3 linked regions of the Homo sapiens genome follow. The protein of the gene in region 2 purifies or fractionates together with the protein of the main gene of each other region. This does not show direct contact. Each region holds a gene or a part of one and is shown on either strand. Other genes may lie near its edges.

Evidence for each region.
Region 1: the proteins of ADD2 (region 2) and NUDT12 purify together in Homo sapiens (affinity purification with mass spectrometry; 2 studies listed by BioGRID and IntAct, with this or other methods). This does not show direct contact.
Region 3: the proteins of ADD2 (region 2) and ROCK2 purify together in Homo sapiens (affinity purification with mass spectrometry; 2 studies listed by BioGRID and IntAct, with this or other methods). This does not show direct contact.

Annotation. Positions count from the first base shown.
Region 1 is NC_000005.10:103,548,151-103,553,222, forward strand, and holds the end of NUDT12 (NAD-capped RNA hydrolase NUDT12), read right to left. Parts: intron 4,267-5,072; coding exon 4,067-4,266; intron 2,822-4,066; coding exon 2,711-2,821; 3' UTR 705-2,710; downstream 1-704. UniProt on the Homo sapiens protein: mRNA decapping enzyme that specifically removes the nicotinamide adenine dinucleotide (NAD) cap from a subset of mRNAs by hydrolyzing the diphosphate linkage to produce nicotinamide mononucleotide (NMN) and 5' monophosphate mRNA.
Region 2 is NC_000002.12:70,656,060-70,660,613, reverse strand, and holds the end of ADD2 (beta-adducin), read left to right. Parts: 3' UTR 1-3,830; downstream 3,831-4,554. UniProt on the Homo sapiens protein: Membrane-cytoskeleton-associated protein that promotes the assembly of the spectrin-actin network. Binds to the erythrocyte membrane receptor SLC2A1/GLUT1 and may therefore provide a link between the spectrin cytoskeleton to the plasma membrane.
Region 3 is NC_000002.12:11,341,159-11,348,964, forward strand, and holds the start of ROCK2 (rho-associated protein kinase 2), read right to left. Parts: upstream 3,479-7,806; 5' UTR 2,979-3,478; coding exon 2,838-2,978; intron 1-2,837. UniProt on the Homo sapiens protein: Protein kinase which is a key regulator of actin cytoskeleton and cell polarity.

The sequences.
Region 1 (5,072 bases), on a different chromosome or scaffold from region 2:
CCCACCACCCATCTCTCTCTCTCTCTCTTTCTCCCCCTCCCTCCCCCCCCCCAGAACCTAATAACTGGGTCTCAGCCCTAATAAAATTTTCACTGTGAAAATTTTACTCTAAATAATTAATGGATTTGTTTTATAGAACATCTTCACCTAATATTTTGTTGTATCCACATTAGCAACACAGTTCCAGGACCAGCTATCTATTGTTGTTATGTGGGATTAATTTGGCTTATTAACAAACTTATTCTTCCTCCTTCCATCTTGGTCTCTCCCTTTGTTATCCTATTATTTTCTGTCTTCAGCCAAATCCCTAACTGGGTCTTTAAAAGAATTTCTCATTTTTCCAACTAAATAAAATATGTGGGCTTCTAACTCTTCATGTTCCATCAACATGTGAAAATATCAAAATCCAACAATTAGCAGTATTAGACAAGTAATAAAAATTAGATATATCGCTTTAAACCTGAAGAACAAAAATTATTGACTTTATATATGTATGTATATATGTAAGTCTGTTTGTATTTGACCCCAAACTATACTTTAAGATTCAAATCAAAGTTTTAAGTCTCCCAAACACAGACACTTTTAAAAAGGCTTTTGCATTTCTTGTACATTATCAATTCGAAACAGGTTAACGACTGAAATCCAGCTTTTCTCATTTTTCAGGACACTTGTCAAAACATGTTAAACACACACACAAAACAAAATAGATTTTAAAAATTTAATGTATTATTACATTCATTTCCAGTAGAATACATTCACGGCACTATCACATCTACTATTCTTTTGAACTGGCCATTCCTTCTATTTACATAGCTTTTCACCTCTCAGAGGTTGGCAATTTAAGAGTTGTTATTAAAATAATAATTTACCTAGATGCTGATTTTTTCCCAAGTAAGGATTAAATATCCAAAACAAAATGTATAACTACACTTGTTGATACTTTATATTCTACTTTCCTATTTTAACATTATGAAAACCTGGAATTTTACAATGTAATCTTAGAATCTGCAAGTATTAAAAGTACATTTAGAGTAAAACTGAATTTCAAGATGCTCTATTTCATAATAATCAAGGTACATTATTTTCCATATACTTATGTAGCTCGAATTTTATTATGTATCTAAATGTCCTCTGTCAGTTTTAATTTGGTTTAAATTCTTGATACCAATAAGCCTTCATCAATTCCTAAGAAAATCACTGCTCATTAGTAAAATAAAGTTTTATCTGACAGTTATCTTTTATTTAAGTTAAATAAATGTTAAGTATCTAAAATTTTAATTAACAATATTTGGTAAATTAAATTTATTCTTATCATTCCTTCTTTTAATTTTGTCTATATATATTTTTAGTAATAGCTTCTAGTTCCTTTTACAGGGAGAATCGTCCTCTGCATTATATAGTACAGACTGTTGTAATTAGTTATGTAACTTTCACTAATTAGGTAAATTCACCTTTCACAATTTCTTTTTCCTTATCTATAAAATAAGGAAAGCTAATTTCATATATTATCCTTAAGGTCTCTTGTAGCTCTAGCATACATTAGTAAAGATGCAAATTATACAAATTTTGATATTCATAAACTATAATAGCTATTAAATCAATTTCAAAATAGCCTTTCAAAATGTGACTTTCTATGTTGCAAAATTGTGAACTACTATGTTTTGCTTTCTCTAGAATCTTACTGATTCAGCTCTAAAATATACTTACTTTGTCAAGGCTTCTTAGAATGTGTTGAAATAAGGTCAAAGCCAAGATATATTTGAGCATAATAAATAGTATTGGTAATGATTATACAATTTTTTGTTAACACAGATACATCACTCATCACAAAATGAAATAAAGCCAATGTTTTAAATTAAATATGTAAATCTGCCTGGGACTTATTTAATATCCGACCTTTGAGGAGAATTCCTTTCAAGTTTAATTTCAGTGCAAAAGCAGAGAATCTTGGTTTGTCTTAATAACAGCTTTAGGTATAAGTAACATATAAGTAGATATGTTAATTAATTTTAGGTCTAAAAGAGAGGTCCCAGATATAATAGTATGCTTTTCTCCTTCCATGAGGGTGTGGTATTGAGATCACTATTAAATTATTAAATTAGAAAATTCTTAACACTGGTCAAATTAGACGAGTGGCGACACTATAACACCTCCACTGCTAGAACAATGGAACCCCCAGGAAAGAGCAAGTGGGACTACAATGGGGAGATGAACAAAAACCATATATTGACAACTTAAAGGTAACAAAAGGACTAAAAAATCAATGCCAGCTAACTCAAGCTAATACAAGCTAAAAATTCATTAAAATTACTTTGATTCATTTCTCAAATCAGGAACTTTCTTCATCATCAGTTTAATGCTTACAAGAGGCACTGAAATTTATGCACATTTCTAGAACATCTTTCCAACATGATGTCTCTTATTAGAAAAATGGTTTTGTGAGATAAAACTGTGAAGGAAGAAAAGAAACCAAGAGAGAAAAAGTTCAGAGAAGACTGACCCAAATTTAACATAATCTGAGGCAATATTGTAAAAATGTGTAAAAATATGAATTTGTGATTAAGACAGAACACTTTGAAAATATTTCGAAAACCCAACATCGTATTTTGTGTTGTGACACTCTCAAGAGTACTGAATAATCTCTAATATCACTTGAGGAATGAGTGTTATTAGAAATTATTAAATAATACTCAAAGCTTAGTTCTTAGATTTAGAGATTAGGATTTATTCTAATCCAGTGTTTGATTAATTGATGTGCAATAGCTCGGCTTGGTGGCACAAAGAATGCCTGCTGCTTCCCTTTGGTCAGAACATCCAGGACCTAAAACACACCATAATAGAATGCATTAGGATTTCAAAGCTGTCATATTTAAATACTATTCCCATGTTTACATAATTCAATTAAAATGTGATGAGTTTTACAGTGAATAACAACAGTAGAAAGTGACAACATCCATATTTACATGCAAAGTTTTTTTTTTTTTGGAAACAAGGTCTTGCACTCTGCCACCCAGACTGGAGTTGCAGTGGTGGGATCATGGCTCATTGCAGCTTTGACTTCCTGGGCTCAGGCGATCCTCCTGCCACAGCCTCCCAAGTAGCTGGTACCATAGGTGCACCTGGCTAACTTTTTAAAAATTATCTGTAGAGACAGGGTCTCCCTATGTTGCCCAGGCTAGTCTCAAACTCCTGGGCTCAATCAAGCTTCCTGCCTTGGCCTTCCAAAGTTCTGGGATTACAGGTATAAGCCACCACGCCCCGCCTCAACATGCAAAATTTAGGACAGCATTTTTAATTGCTTCACTGAGTAAGTGATTCAGTTTCTAAAATGTTCCAGAAAGACACATTCCCTTATGAAAATGACATCACGAAAAAGCAAAATGTACGCTCCACACTTAATTTCTAAGCAAAGCCAACTTTTGAAACAGATTCTTTTTTATAAAATTCATAAGCAATAATCTAATTTCCATCTTTTAGGATTAAGCATAGAATAAAATTAATTTTATGCAGGCAAAGTCAGAAAGAATTTCAGGTCAGATGAGTAATTTATCTTTTAATATATTATTTAGGAATGACATTTTAGAAAGTTATTTTAAGTGTATGTTTATTATACAGTTATGTCATTCTTGTCCTTAAGTACATTTTAAAATGAATAAAAACTTTCTGAAAATTTTAAGCACTTACTGATGTTTTTTGAGAGCTACTTGTTTTAATGTTATAAACTAAAATATAAAATGTATAAGAATATTCCTGTTTCTCATCTATGAATTAATGTTTTTCTAAACCCACTGATAGGTATTATTATTTATGTGAAGGAATGGAATCTGAAACTCGAAATGGTACAGAATCATCTCTACTAGAAAAATCTCATAGAATAAGTTAATATAGATCACATTAGTGAAACATACTCCTCCTGTATGGAATTACTAATTACCATGTAATCCATGCATAATGAGAGGGCCAAAGGCATCATTCAACTTGCTGAAAATATGCATCCTTGCTCTGTGACCAAACCAATACAGTCAGGGAACAATCAATAGAAGAAGGAAATTAAATTGAACTTTACCTGTTCTCTAGTGAACCAGCGGGCATCCTCTATTTCATTCTTGTCAACTTTAATTTCTGTAGACACTGCTAGAGCTAAGCAACCAATCATTAAGGAGGAAGGCATTGGCCATGGTTGACAAGCAACATACTGAACATGGCCAACTTTGACTCCACTTTCCTCTTCTACTTCTCTCCTAACAGCATCTTCTATTGTCTCTCCTAATGAAATGGAGCAAAAGAACAAGTTGCTGATGAACATGCCCGGGACACTTTGTGTCCTGAATGGTTCAAACATCTGGAAATCACTTTGGACAGAAACCCAATGCAAATAATCAGAAAGCAGAAGCCTAAAACTAGACTGTAATTGAAGAAAACAATTTTTTTAAAGTACATGACCACATATAGAATATCAAAATGCCAACAATAAACTTTTCGTTTTTTTAAGGTACAAATTTGTCAGTTACATTTTAAAAATAATGATACCATCTAAAAATATCCAATACCTAATACTGGTTAAACACTATGCAAACACTTTATATCTTATCTCATGTATATATTGTCCACGAAATAGTTATAAATTACATGATTTTTACAAATAGCTCTTTCACACTAAAATTCTGAAACTTTTTTTTATTATGTTGTCAAACAATTATTGCAGGTAACTCTTTTCAGGTCATTACAAGATTACAAACTACATAAGATGAAATTTAATACTTTTTCTAAGCAATTATTTTCCTCTAGATGACTGCTGACTCTGCTATGGTAAGTGATGCCTATAAATGTACTTTATATTTCTAATTTGTTGGAATTAAGAATTAGAATAGGGGAAATTGTTTCTAAGTAAAATCATTTCTAAGTAAAATCTGGAAGTTTAGAAACATTTTGCTAAATATTGCTGTATTTAGCAAAATATATTTTAAATATAGCTTTCTATTTCAAATAGATTGATAAATTTCCTACATGAAAATTAACTTATAATAATCAAAAGAACACATATAGTAAAAATATAATTATAGACTAGTGTA
Region 2 (4,554 bases):
CTAAGGAAACTGGTAGGAAGTGTGGAGGAGCTAGACTTGTCATGGAAGGGGTTTGGAGCCACTGGAGCCTTTAAATCAGGATAGAGTCATGATCAGAATTGCATTTTAGGAAAATCCCTTTGGTGGCTGAATGGAGACTGTGGACTGGATGGGCGTGGGATGGTGGCATGGGAGCTATGAGGCCTTTTTGAAATGTCAATACTAAAACATAGTTGATGGCCTGCTTTACACGATGTTTCCTCTACAGCAGATAGTGAGTTTCCAACACAAAATTTATTTCCATAAAAGTCTTTGGATAAAGCACCTTAAGAGGGATTTTCAACAAGGAGAGGGGAGCATTCAAAGAGCTAATGTTTCCAGTTTTATTTTGTCTTGGTGTAGAATTGCTGGGAGAGGTGTCCAGCCATCCTGCCATTTCTTCTTCCCTTGCACAGAATGTGGCACATTTAGCTCCAGGCTTGAGGACATGCACCAAATGCTACAGAAACAGACATGTGGTCCAAACAAATCTACAGGCTATTAGAAAGGAAAGGCCATTTTCTTTGGCTGTGGATAAAAGTTGGCTGAAAACTTTGACCAATATCTGACTGGAGAAAATGTGTATTCAAGAGCTCAGATTTGGTGGGCAGTAGGTTCATGTCTGGTTGAGCTACTGTGCTTGGATGTGCCAGAGAAAAGGGTAACATTTGAACCAATGTGCTGCTCTGTGGCTGGCTGAGCTGGGAAGTGGAGAGGTTTCTGAGCTTATTTCCATCGCAAGGCAGGCAGGAGGAGAGAGGACAAGAAGGATTAGTGGTTTCGCAGAGACAGGCTTGGCTCCAACGGCTCCTTGCGTAGTGTTGGCTGCACCCAACAGTGGTGTGAGAGAACCGTCCATACCATGTGACCTTCCTCCCAAACTGCAGAAAGAGACACCTTCTAGCCCAGATCTGGACTCCCTAAGAGCCTCCTGGCCTGCATGCAACCCAAGTAACTGTCCTACTTTGGCCAGTTGACCCCCTCCACTCTCCTATAACTAAAACAGGGTTCTTCCTCTGTGAACAGATAAGTTCTTTTTAAAGGACTTGGGGGAAATTGGATGAAGAGCAGTAAGTTCTTACAGTAAGAACCCCACTGTAAAGCACTGCCCTCTGCCACTGATCCATGTAGACTGAATTTGAATCCCATTCCCTGTGGATGATACCGTCACTTGCTCATGGTGACATGGCAAGACAGTCATTCAGATGTTTGGCATTGTTGTAGCAGGGCTACTGCTAGTGTGGGGGAAAATGCTATAAATCCACTTCTTTGATTGCCATGGATTTGAAAGAACCATTTGCCCAACAGCATGATTCGCCTCTGAAAGTCTAAAAATAATTTTCAATTTTTCCATGAAGGTATGTGGAGGGTAAACACACAGCCTACGCATAGGTCTGCATGACATGTTTTTTCTTTTTCTTTCTTTTTTTTTTTTTTTTTTTTTTTTTTTAGACGGAGCTTTGCTCTTTGTTGCCCAGGCTGGAGTGCAGTGGTGCAATCTTAGCTCACTGCAACCTCTGCCTCCCGGTTTTTCAAGCGATTCTTCTGTCTCAGCCTCCCAAGTAGCTGGAATTACAGGAGCCCGCCACCTTGCCCAGCTAATTTTTGTATTTTTAGTAGAGACGGGGTTTCACCATGTTGGCCAGGCTGGTCTTGAACTCCTGACCTCGTGATCCACCTGCCTCGGCTTCCCAAAGTGCTGGGATTACAGGAATGAGCCACTGTGCCAGCTGACACGTTTTTTCTTTTGTGTGAATTTTATGTTCTAGTTTTGGGACAAGGGTAATCAGTTCTTGACTAGTGAACAAATGAGAGAACATTTACCCCTTACTCATTTTACACATGCAGGTCAGCAGAAGCCCTAGAGTTGGTTGGCACAGTCGCAGTTGACTGAGCATAGAGGAAACAGGTCTTTTTACATTCTCTCTCATCACTGGAGCTCAGTTGAACTCTAAGACCTTAGCACTCAAAGAGTCTGAAAAGAAATGAGGGAGAGGCTAAATTTAAGCTCTCCACTCCCACAGAAAGGACAGGGCACCCTACAATCTAAAAGCCAGTGAGGCAGCCTATCATCTGTTTCACATCTGTTCTGAAAGGGATAGTTTAATGCAAGAAGTAAGAGGCCTGTAGTGACTGTAAACTCATGAAATGTGCACATTGGTTATCTGTGCACATTTCCACTTGCACCATAACATAAGAAAGCGTACATGGAGTGTAATTACTTCCAGAAGCCCCGTCTAACCAACCTATTCAGATGTGGCACACTTTCTGTCATAAATGAGAGACCACACGTAGAGCTCGGTCACCAAGGAATGCCCAACATCCCTTTACCTCTCACAATGAGCAGCCACGCTCACCGGGAAGCAGTGTGGGGACTTCAGTGGGGTGTCCCTTAGTGGAGAACACCTTTCATCATTTTTATAGAGACAATTCCCTTGAGAATGTAGGCTTTTCATCTTAGGAACAATTAGGAAGAATCTCCAGCTGGGAGTGTTCTTATGTATACAGAAACAATGGGTCGCATTGGTTCATACTTAGGTGATATTAGGTTTGGCTATATTGATGTTTGGTGCCACTTACCTTCTAGATTTTCCCAAAAGTTGGGTCATTGCTATGGGAAATTGGGGCCTGCAGATGGGGGAGAAATGATCATTATTGGTGCAGGGAAGGGGTTCAGGCAGAGCTGGAGTCTGAGGCTCAGTGTGAGAAAGCACTGGCAGTTTTCTAGTAGAGTCAGGTCCTGGGCTCCTCTCCTCACCCACTGTGTCCCGAACTGAGGCCAGCTGTGATCGGCAAATTGCTTATCTCTAGGTAGTTTAAAGAAAACGTAAGAGTTTGGGGGGTGGTGGGAGAATAACTGTAGAAAGACCCTAAACTCTTCTCTCCCCCAGCAAATTATCTTGTATAATGTTTAAAAACCCAAAGGCCAGATCTCCCCTTTTAACGTGAATCAGAAGGAGGATGGCAATTGGACCAAGGGCAGAGTGGCCACACTTGAAACACATTATAAAATGGGAATATATTTCAGGGAACCCCACCCCCACACTTCCACTCCACCTCACACCTGTTGGTCCTGCTTTGTGGGTGATTGATTGATACCCAAGGACTGCCCCACCTTTAAATTCCTGCAATTTATGCTGCAACCAACATCTTAGTGTTTGCTCTCTCCGGGAAGAGGCCAGGTGGGGGAGAACATACGGTCCAGAGCCTGAGATCGCCTGGCTGGGGTGCAGGCAAGCAGGAACCCAGTCTAGATAGAATGCAGTGTTCTCTAAAGCTATGGATGGTTTCAGTGAAATGTCTGTGTCTGACAATCGTCACGCAAGAGTACTTACTGTCTTCCCTTGTACATACATTGTCTGTGTTTAGCTTTTCCTAGTATTGTGAGGTTTCAAATAGGGGTTCCATGTAAATACTCTTTCTGCTACTGAAATGCCGGCCCCCTTGAGTATGCATCACCCCCACAGATGGTTTTGCCTTTCTCTATGCTAACACTTTTTGAGCCACTGACGTGCAGATCGGTGGTTAGTTTCTTGGGCTTTTATTTTGCAATTTTATATATATACACATATTATATATATATATATATTTATGGGTTGGTTTTGTATAGTTTTCTGTTTGAATCTCTGAGCACCAAAGCTGCCCTTTGATTTTCACGAGAACTTTCCAAAGCCACTTCCTGAGCCCTCCTGCTGCTTTGGTGTCTGACGGTGATGCTGCGGTGGCATCTCTGCCCGTGAATTTCTGTATGTGTGTGCTGTTACCTCACCTGCAGACATGACCCTAGTAAATCTAACGTGCTTGGCTTCCCAGTGTGTGTGCCCCATCTCTGTCGGCTCCTCAGCTCTCCTGGCTCCCAGGGGAGAAGTCAGAAAGGGGGCCCTGTGGAAACATGGACCACGCAAGAAAATTGTACCCTTGAGGCCATTTCTCACACACGGAAAGCTGAACATGTGTCTACTTGTGTTCTGATTTGGGAAGGGCGGTTATAAAATACTAGACTCTCCTGAAAAGGAAATGGCCATGTGGATTTGAAACAGCTCTGTGGAGGAAGCTCAGTTTAGGTGGGTTGGGATAGGGGAGGAGCATTGCACAAACACACATGTGGACGGCCCTGCAGGGCAGCAGCAGCGGCAGATCTATAGGCTGGAATGGAAGAGGGTGTCAGGCCAGAGTGAGAATCTTGGAGAGGGCTAAGAAGTCACCCCAAGGGGTGAAAGGAGAATGGAGAGACTAGGTGGGGAAAAAGGAAGAGAGAAAAGAGGAAAGAGAGCCTTTGGCTCCTCTTTATTCAAAAACTACTGTGGAAGCTCAGTATTCCTTGAGTATCCACACATATGTGGCAGGTGTTGTTTAAGTATCTCATGCATCGCACCCACTGAGCCCCCATAAAACCCAGAGGGTGATTCTGTTATTACTACTTACTTTACAGATGAAGTAAGGAGACTTTTCTTGGGCCACAGGTTAATATGTGGTAAAGCCCAAGTTCAGCTAAGGTCTTGTAGGTAACCAAGCCCTGGCTCTTTCCACTGCTGC
Region 3 (7,806 bases), about 59 Mb from region 2:
TATACTCTTCTCAGATTAATTTAAGGACCCACATAAAGCCATGAGCCTTTGCAGAGAAACAAGATGTCATCTTTACACTGATTTAGTCTTGGAATCCAGCTCTACCTATGCCTAATGATTGCTAGCACTTTTCTGATGACAAATTCAAATGATAATGCTACTCACTCAAAATTATGTAGCAAGAAATAGTTGCAAATAAAACCATTTTCCTTTGAAAAGAAAATTTAAAGCAGTTAACTAATAACATGCTAAGTGTGCACAGGAGAAGTGAACTAAATTTAATGAGCACTGTGATGTACCAAGCACTAGGCTAAGCACTTTACACGTTATCTCATAAAACTTTGTTTCCTACAGAGTTTTACCTTCTAGGCCTAGCCCACTGAAAGCATCATACAATCATTTCTGGTGTACTTCATCTTCTTTTGTCATCTTAGGTATATACTATTTTTAATGGTACTTTCTGAGCTCCTGAATGTAGTGTCGCAGCTGTGTTTGCTTTAAATTATATTCCTTTAAATTTTCTGTTAAAGACAAAATATGTATTTCCCATGGCAAAACCAAAAAATAAATGTCATAGGCAGTAAAACAATGACCAATAGTGAAATGCAACCTAAATGCTAAGGTTTCAGATCTTTAAAGTGATACCAGCCATTATTTCGTCAGTATTTCAGGAAATATAATTTTTATAACATTCTTTTAAACATTAATTTACAGTTTCAGTTTGGAAAAATGAAAAGATTCCAGAGACGGATAGTGGTGATGGCTGCACAACAATGTGAATGTATTTAATGCCTGCCACTAACCTGTACACTTAAAAATGGTTAAAAATGGTAAATTCTGTATACGCTACCACAATAAAAAATCCATTCTAGTAGTTCATAAATAAAATACGCGTAATTTAAAATTAATTTATTATAAAAAAATTTTTAAATTTCGTTTATCAATTTGTAACAGAAACACCAGGAACCTTGCTCCAAAGGAATAAGGGACGCATTTTGGCTTGGAAAGGTTTACTGCACCTCAAGCATATTTAACCAACTAGAAACAGCAATAACAGAGTCTGTCAAGTCATCAGCACCTGATGTCAATTCTCAGATCCGTAATGTGCCACCTTAATAAAAGTGTGTTTTGGCTGTAATAACTGCTAAATGAATGAACTGTGTCCTGAACATGTGAGATGTTTCACTTTTAAAAATAGCCTCCATTTTAATAATTTGGAAAGCAATAAAACAAAATGCATGATCATATTACATGTATAAGCTACTTACATTCAAGCTCAGAATAACTCTAATAATTATGATTAATATCATTAAAGATCTAAGATATCAAAGTGAATTGCAAAACGTTTCCATCTAGGATTTAGCATGAACCTGATGAATACTTGAGATTTGCTGTACTATTTTTAACTAAACTTTCTGGCCTTAGGTCAAAGTTTTGCTAGCAAAATACCAAAGTGAAAATGCTGGGAGTGCAGCCCAGAGTCTCCGCTTTAGCCTAGGAAAAGCTATGCCATCCATGCAAGCAATCTTACTCCCGATTAAAGACTTTCAAAGACTGCTCCCATTAAAACATAGGAACAACACATTAACCCGAAAAACAGTAAAACATCAAACACATGTGACACAATATAGCACATCATTCATTACTTTCTGTACACTGTGCAGAAAGACACTATATAGCTAAAGTCAGTTCCTGCATTTTGACCAAACAGGACTGAGTCACTCTGCAAACGATGCCTGAAACCTCAAAGGATAACCAACCGCCTCTGACCAAAAGCCAGTCCGTCCGTCCCTGGAAAGGGAGGAGGCAGTTTTTCTCATCATACAGTAAGGTTTATTCCAGGAGGGAATAGAACTAAACATCTGCATTCCAGCACAGAATGTCTAACGGATCTAAGGACCTCCCACCCTAGTTCTAGTCTTCCAGAGTCAATTTAATACACAGAGTATCGTTTTCACCTTTCTTCCCCTCCCCAGGGTAAAAGTCCACACCCCCTTTTCCCATAAATGCATCTACACTGCACACTACTCAAATTGCGAAATACAATCATCTATCCTAACAAAAATAAGAAATAAGCCAGCATTCTACGGTGCATTTCTATTTTGTAAAACATGCTCCTTTCTTAACCAAGAGCCAATTAGCAGCCTTTACGGTGCTATTAATCTGGATTTCAAAGGTCGTTATAGGAAAGAGACGCAATGAAGAGGACAGATTTATTCCACTCCACAATTCAGACTGATTTTTTGGCTCTGGCGCAATAATCTCAGGGAATTAAATTTACAGCAATTAAAATGCACTAAATAGCAAGTATGGAATGCTCAAACGCAAGTGAAAACAGCAAAACTTTAGCTGTGTGTTCCAAGATTTCAGACTAAAAGGAGAGAGTGAGGGCGGCTCTTTGTCATGTACCCCAGTGAGTACTCGCAACAGGGACAGCATCAGGTTTCTTTCTCCCTCGCTCGCACCAAGTCCCCACGTAGCATGACACTTTCAAATCAGCTAACCTGGTGTATGAAGCATGGCCAGTCCTCCACCCACCTCCCCAGAGTGGGCAGGCGGAAGGAGAAGAGGGGTGTTTTCCTCCCAGTGCTGCAAGAAAGGAGCAGCCGGGGATGACACTGGCTCCAGCAGGAGGTAGAGGGAGGAATCAAAGGCGGGTCACTACTCTTGGAACTCGGTGACAGAATCGTTTGGTCTCCGGCCCCGGCTGCCGGAAGCAGGGCGGGGTGGGGCAAGACCTCCCCCTCCCCACGGGCGGACGGGCACGGAGGGCTGGGCGGAGAGGGGATCTGAGGTGTGAGCTGCAACGAGCAAGCTCCCAGGCCCCGGCCACCTACCAGCAAGCTCTCCACGTTGATGGGGGAGCGAGGGTCTCGGATCAGCGCCTCCAGCTTCCTCTGGCGGCTCGCGCCTGCCCCGTCCCCCGGCGCGGTCTCGGGGGCGCCGGGCATTTTCCCCGTCGGCGGGGGCCGGCTCATGCCGCCACCGCTGGACCCGCACTCAGGCTCCTCGCGCTCAGGTCCCGCAGCCTCGGGGCCTAGCACCGCCCCCGAACCACCAGCTCCGGCCGGGACTCCACCCGGGCCCACCGCCTGCCTCTAGCTCCGGCTTCGGGTCTCCAAGGCGGTCCCCCGCCTGGGGGCTGCTCCCAGGGGCCCGCCCGGCCCAGCCCGGCCCAGCCCGGCCCGGCCCTGCCGGGAGCGGCGGGGAACAGACGGCGTCCCCGCCCCTCAGTCAGATTCGCGCCGCCGGTCCGCTGGTCCTCAGCGAGTGCCCGCAGGAGTCCTCGGGCGGGAGCAGGGAAGTGGCGCCGCCACCGCCGCGGCCCGGACCGCCCCGCCCTCTGGGGCCCCGGGAGGCTGAAGCCCAGGCCTGGGCCACTACGGCCGCCGCCGGCCCGCTGCCATGGTCGCCGCCGGCCGCCTTGCAGTCCCTCAGCCAGCTCCCGGCGCACACACTCCCGCGCGGCCGCCCGTCTCCGGCCGCGCGCCGCCGCTACCCACAAGCCCCTCCGCCCGCAGCCGCCGGCGCGCGTCCCCGCCGGCCCTGCGCGCGCTCCGCCCCGCCCCGCCCCGCGCACCGCGCTTCCTCCCTTTCTTTCCCTTCCTGCGTCTGTCCCGCTCCGCTTTCTCCTCTGCGCCCCTTCCTCGCCCGCCCTCGCCTCCTCCCCCTGGCGAGGTTCTCTGAGGCGAATAGCCGGGCGCGCGGTCACGGCCGAGCTCCTGCTGGGGGAGGGGAGACGCACCCAGGCCGGGTCCTTCCGCGCGCCCCCTGCCCCTCCCGCCGGACCCCGCGGACTACCCCGCGGCCCCGAGGCGGAACCCCAGACGCCGGGCCCAGCGCACCGTGCGCTGGGGGGGAGCCCGGCCGCGCCCCCCGCCGCGGCCCCCGCTGACTCAGCGCGCAGCTATGCGGGCCTCGCCTCACCCGCGCCCAAATAATAGCGACCGAGCTCGGCGCCCGCGAGGGGCCGCAGGGCCGGGGGTTTCGAGGCGAGCCTGAGAGGGGGCCCTGGGTGTCTGGGATTCCGAATTAGCGGAGGCGGGTGGAATCCTAGTCCTGGGGCAGGAGGGCCTGGGATCCTGAAAGCGTTTCTGCCCGGCTTAGACACTAACCACTTCAAGAGAACGGGAGAGCACCGGAAAAAGGCTTTCCAGCCGCAGGCCTTCGCGGGGTCTTCTCCTTTTGGGGGGCGGAAGAGGGGTGGTTATCGGGACCGTTCCGCCGCATTCCTGCCCTCTCGGCGGCCGGTGCCATCGCTTAGATCCGCCCAGGGCGCAATCCGAAAATTATGTGCCAAGAGCTATAAAACCGTTCATAGAGCCCCTTTGACCCAGTAAACCCATTTAAGGAAGTACATTTCCAAGGAAATGATCCAAAGGGCGAAGAAGGGGGAGAACTTGCAGAAAGATGTTAACAGCAGGGCTATTCACAATGTTCGTGATGACCAAAACCTGGGAATGGGCCCAGTTGTCCAACAATTGAGTAACCCAAACAGGCGCCTTCACATTAACAGCAAGAATCCTGGCAGGTATGCAGACTGTGTCAAACATGAAATTTTGGCAAGTACATGAGAAGGTATATTAGAAATAAATGAAACAAAAAAAATCGTTTGTACACACTAAAACTATGTAAAATGAGCAGCTATAAGAACCAGAGAATACAGTACTTCTTAAATAAATGGGATTTTTTTCTGTAAAGATACTTAAGAACAAATTAAATTTCAAAAAATGGAAAAACCACTCCGAAAAGCAACAATCTGATATCCATTAAGTAATAAGAATGTTAAGAACTGTCTCCCTGGCATGTCAGAGATAAACCCGAAGATAGGGTGAAGCCCCAGCCCTGTAAAAGTTGCATTTTGATCCAAACCATTGGATTAGTTGGAGCCTCTTCTTTGGTTTTAGGTTAGTTAAAACCACCCCTAGCTGGACTCATGCAGGAAGAGGCCCCGATGATCCATCCAATGCAGCTTTTCCCTTTCAGATAGTAACACTGACTTCACATCCAGAGAGTCCTTTAAGTCTGTGTATTGAGCTACTCATTCAGACCTCCACAGAGGCCACCAGGAGAACAGAGGGAGCTAGACACTCCCACTTATGCATTGGAGCAAAATAATGAGATAATCTATGATTATGGATTATTTTTCTGATGACAAAATAATATGCAAGGCAAAAGGAGCACTCTGTCTAGCGGGGCGTGGTGGCCTGTGCCTGTAGTCCCAGCTCCCCCTGAGGCTGAGTTGGAGGCCTCCTCCATTGAGCCCAGGAGGCCAAGGCTGCAGTGAGCTGTGATCACACCGCTGCACTCCAGCCTGGGCAACAGAGTGAGATTGTCTCAAAAAAAAAAAAAAAAAAACACTGTGGTTCTCAGTTTCCAAATTAATTTTGACTGGTTGTATATTTGTATGTAGCTTGGTGGAATAACAGGAAGCCATGGTCCAAATACCGAACATGAAAACCTTATTTTAAGAGTAGTGATCAACAAGATATATATCCTGGGCATGTTCTACATATACTTATTTATATAGACCAGAAAAAGCCATGGTACAGAAGATTTTTACCCAAGACCTATCCCATTGTCTACCTGGAAGAAGAGAAAATGAATCTGTTGATATGAGTTAAACCTTTTTGCAGGATGGGGTAAGGGTAAGGAGGAGGTTAGTACAACAATTCTTGTTTTCAAAAGTAATGCACAAATGCATTCTTGTAAAAGTTCAAACGAACCAGAAATATATGGAACATAATCTAAAATTTACTGTTCTGACTATATTTCCACATACATTCTTATATCACTCAAGGCCTTTGGCCATTCTCATACATATGTATTATAGATACATGTTACCTTTTCCCCACAGACATGAAATTATACCATATCATGGTGTTTGGCAACTTGGTTTTTTCCCTTCATTACTAATATGTCCTAGAGGCGTGTCCATGTCTATAGGCAGAGATCTGCTTCATTCCGCTTACCTGCTGTCCTCTACTCCCCAGTTTGGATGTGCCACACTGTAATTATTCTCTATTCGAGAGCATAGTGGTTAAGAAACAATTGCCAAAATCCTGCCCCAAACACACACTTGCCATGTGACCCTGAGCAAGTTACCTAACTCCTCTGTGTCTCGGGGTCCTCACAATATTTGTTATAAAGTGCTTAGAAATGTGCTGGCCCTCAATCAATGCTAGATATTATTAATATTTTCTCACTGTTAAAATGATCCATTGACATCCTCGTATCCTCATATTTGAATAGTATAGATTCCTAAAAGTGGAATTGTCATAACAAAGGGTAGGCATACTGTAAATACAGATGCTGCCAACCTGTTATTTATTTATTTATTGGAGGCAGGTTTACATTCTGTCCTTCAGGCTGGAGTGCAGTGGCACGAGAGATCTTGGCTCACTGCAACCTCCACCTCTAGGGCTCCAGCAGTCCTCCCACTTCAGCCTCCTGAGTAGCTGGAACTGCAAGCACACAACACCATGCCTGGCTAATTTTTGTATTTTTTGTAGAGACAGGATTTTGCCTTGTTGCCCAGGCTGTTCTCTAAGTCCTGAGCTCAAGCGATCCACTCACCTCAGCCTCCCAAAGTGCTGGGATTACAGGGGTGAGTCACAGAGCCGGGCCTCAACCTGGCCTTTAAAAAGACGCTACCCGTTTACATTCTCAGCGTGAGTAGAAGAAACTGCCCATGTCCCTTCACCTTTCCCAGTATTCAATATTATATTTTTAATTGTTGTCAATAAAATGGGCAAAAAACGCCATCTTGTTCTGACTTGTATTCCCTTAATTACTACTGAAGATAGGCATTTTGTCTATCTATTTCTTCTGCAATTACCTGTTTATATCTTTTATCCATTAGTTTTGTCTCTTTTTATTATTTATAAGAGCTCCTTATGTATTTTGGATATTCCTTTTTGTTATATTATAATAGAATATATTAAAATATGTTACAGTTTGTGAAGATTTTTTTCCAGTCTGTTGCTTGTCATTCAGTTTTGTTTTTTACCTGTTATGCGGTCAAATCGGTTGATATTGTCCTCTACAGCTTCTGGGTTCTGTATCTGTGTTAAGGAGGATTTCCAACCCAGTTTTTAGGTCACACAGAATACTGGAATTGCAACAGGTTATGAGGAAATGGCAGTTTCCTAATATTCTCAGCTCAGCTCATCCCAAATTAGCTGTGGAAGGGGGTTCCCTGGGCTTGCTGGTCTCCAAGGGAACTCCTGCTGTGACTCCTGTTGCCACGCGACTCGGGCCAGGGTTGACTGCTCCTTTCTAACAGAGTCCCCAGTGTGTCCTGAGCACAGTTGAGACAGGCAGGAACTTGGACAGAAACTTTTGTTCAATAGTAAGGAAGAACAATGGAAAAATAAACACGGAAAATACAGGGCATTTAACCAGGCTGGCCTATCAATGGATAAGGCTTGGATTGCACCATAACTGTTCATAGCTTGCTCTGCAGAACTTAGAAACTCCACTCCGTTTCATATGAATTTCTTTTCTCTGTCTCTTCATTCCCAATGGTCTATTTGACATCCACTACCCAGCAATGCCTTCCTAGCCCTCCTGATGCTTCCTCACCCAGACTGAGGGTCCAGGCCTCCTTCTTTTCTCTGAGATCCATCTCCTCAAGTTTCAGTTTTTTATTTGAGGAATCTGCCTCTTCCTCAAGAATTAATTCACCTTTCAGATGCAACTTTACCCTCTCCACCCATAGCTAGTGCTGGAAAAGGACCATTTTTGTCTTTTGACCATGTGGCTTTTGTAATTACTCTTTTAATTATAACTATTATTTTAAGGACT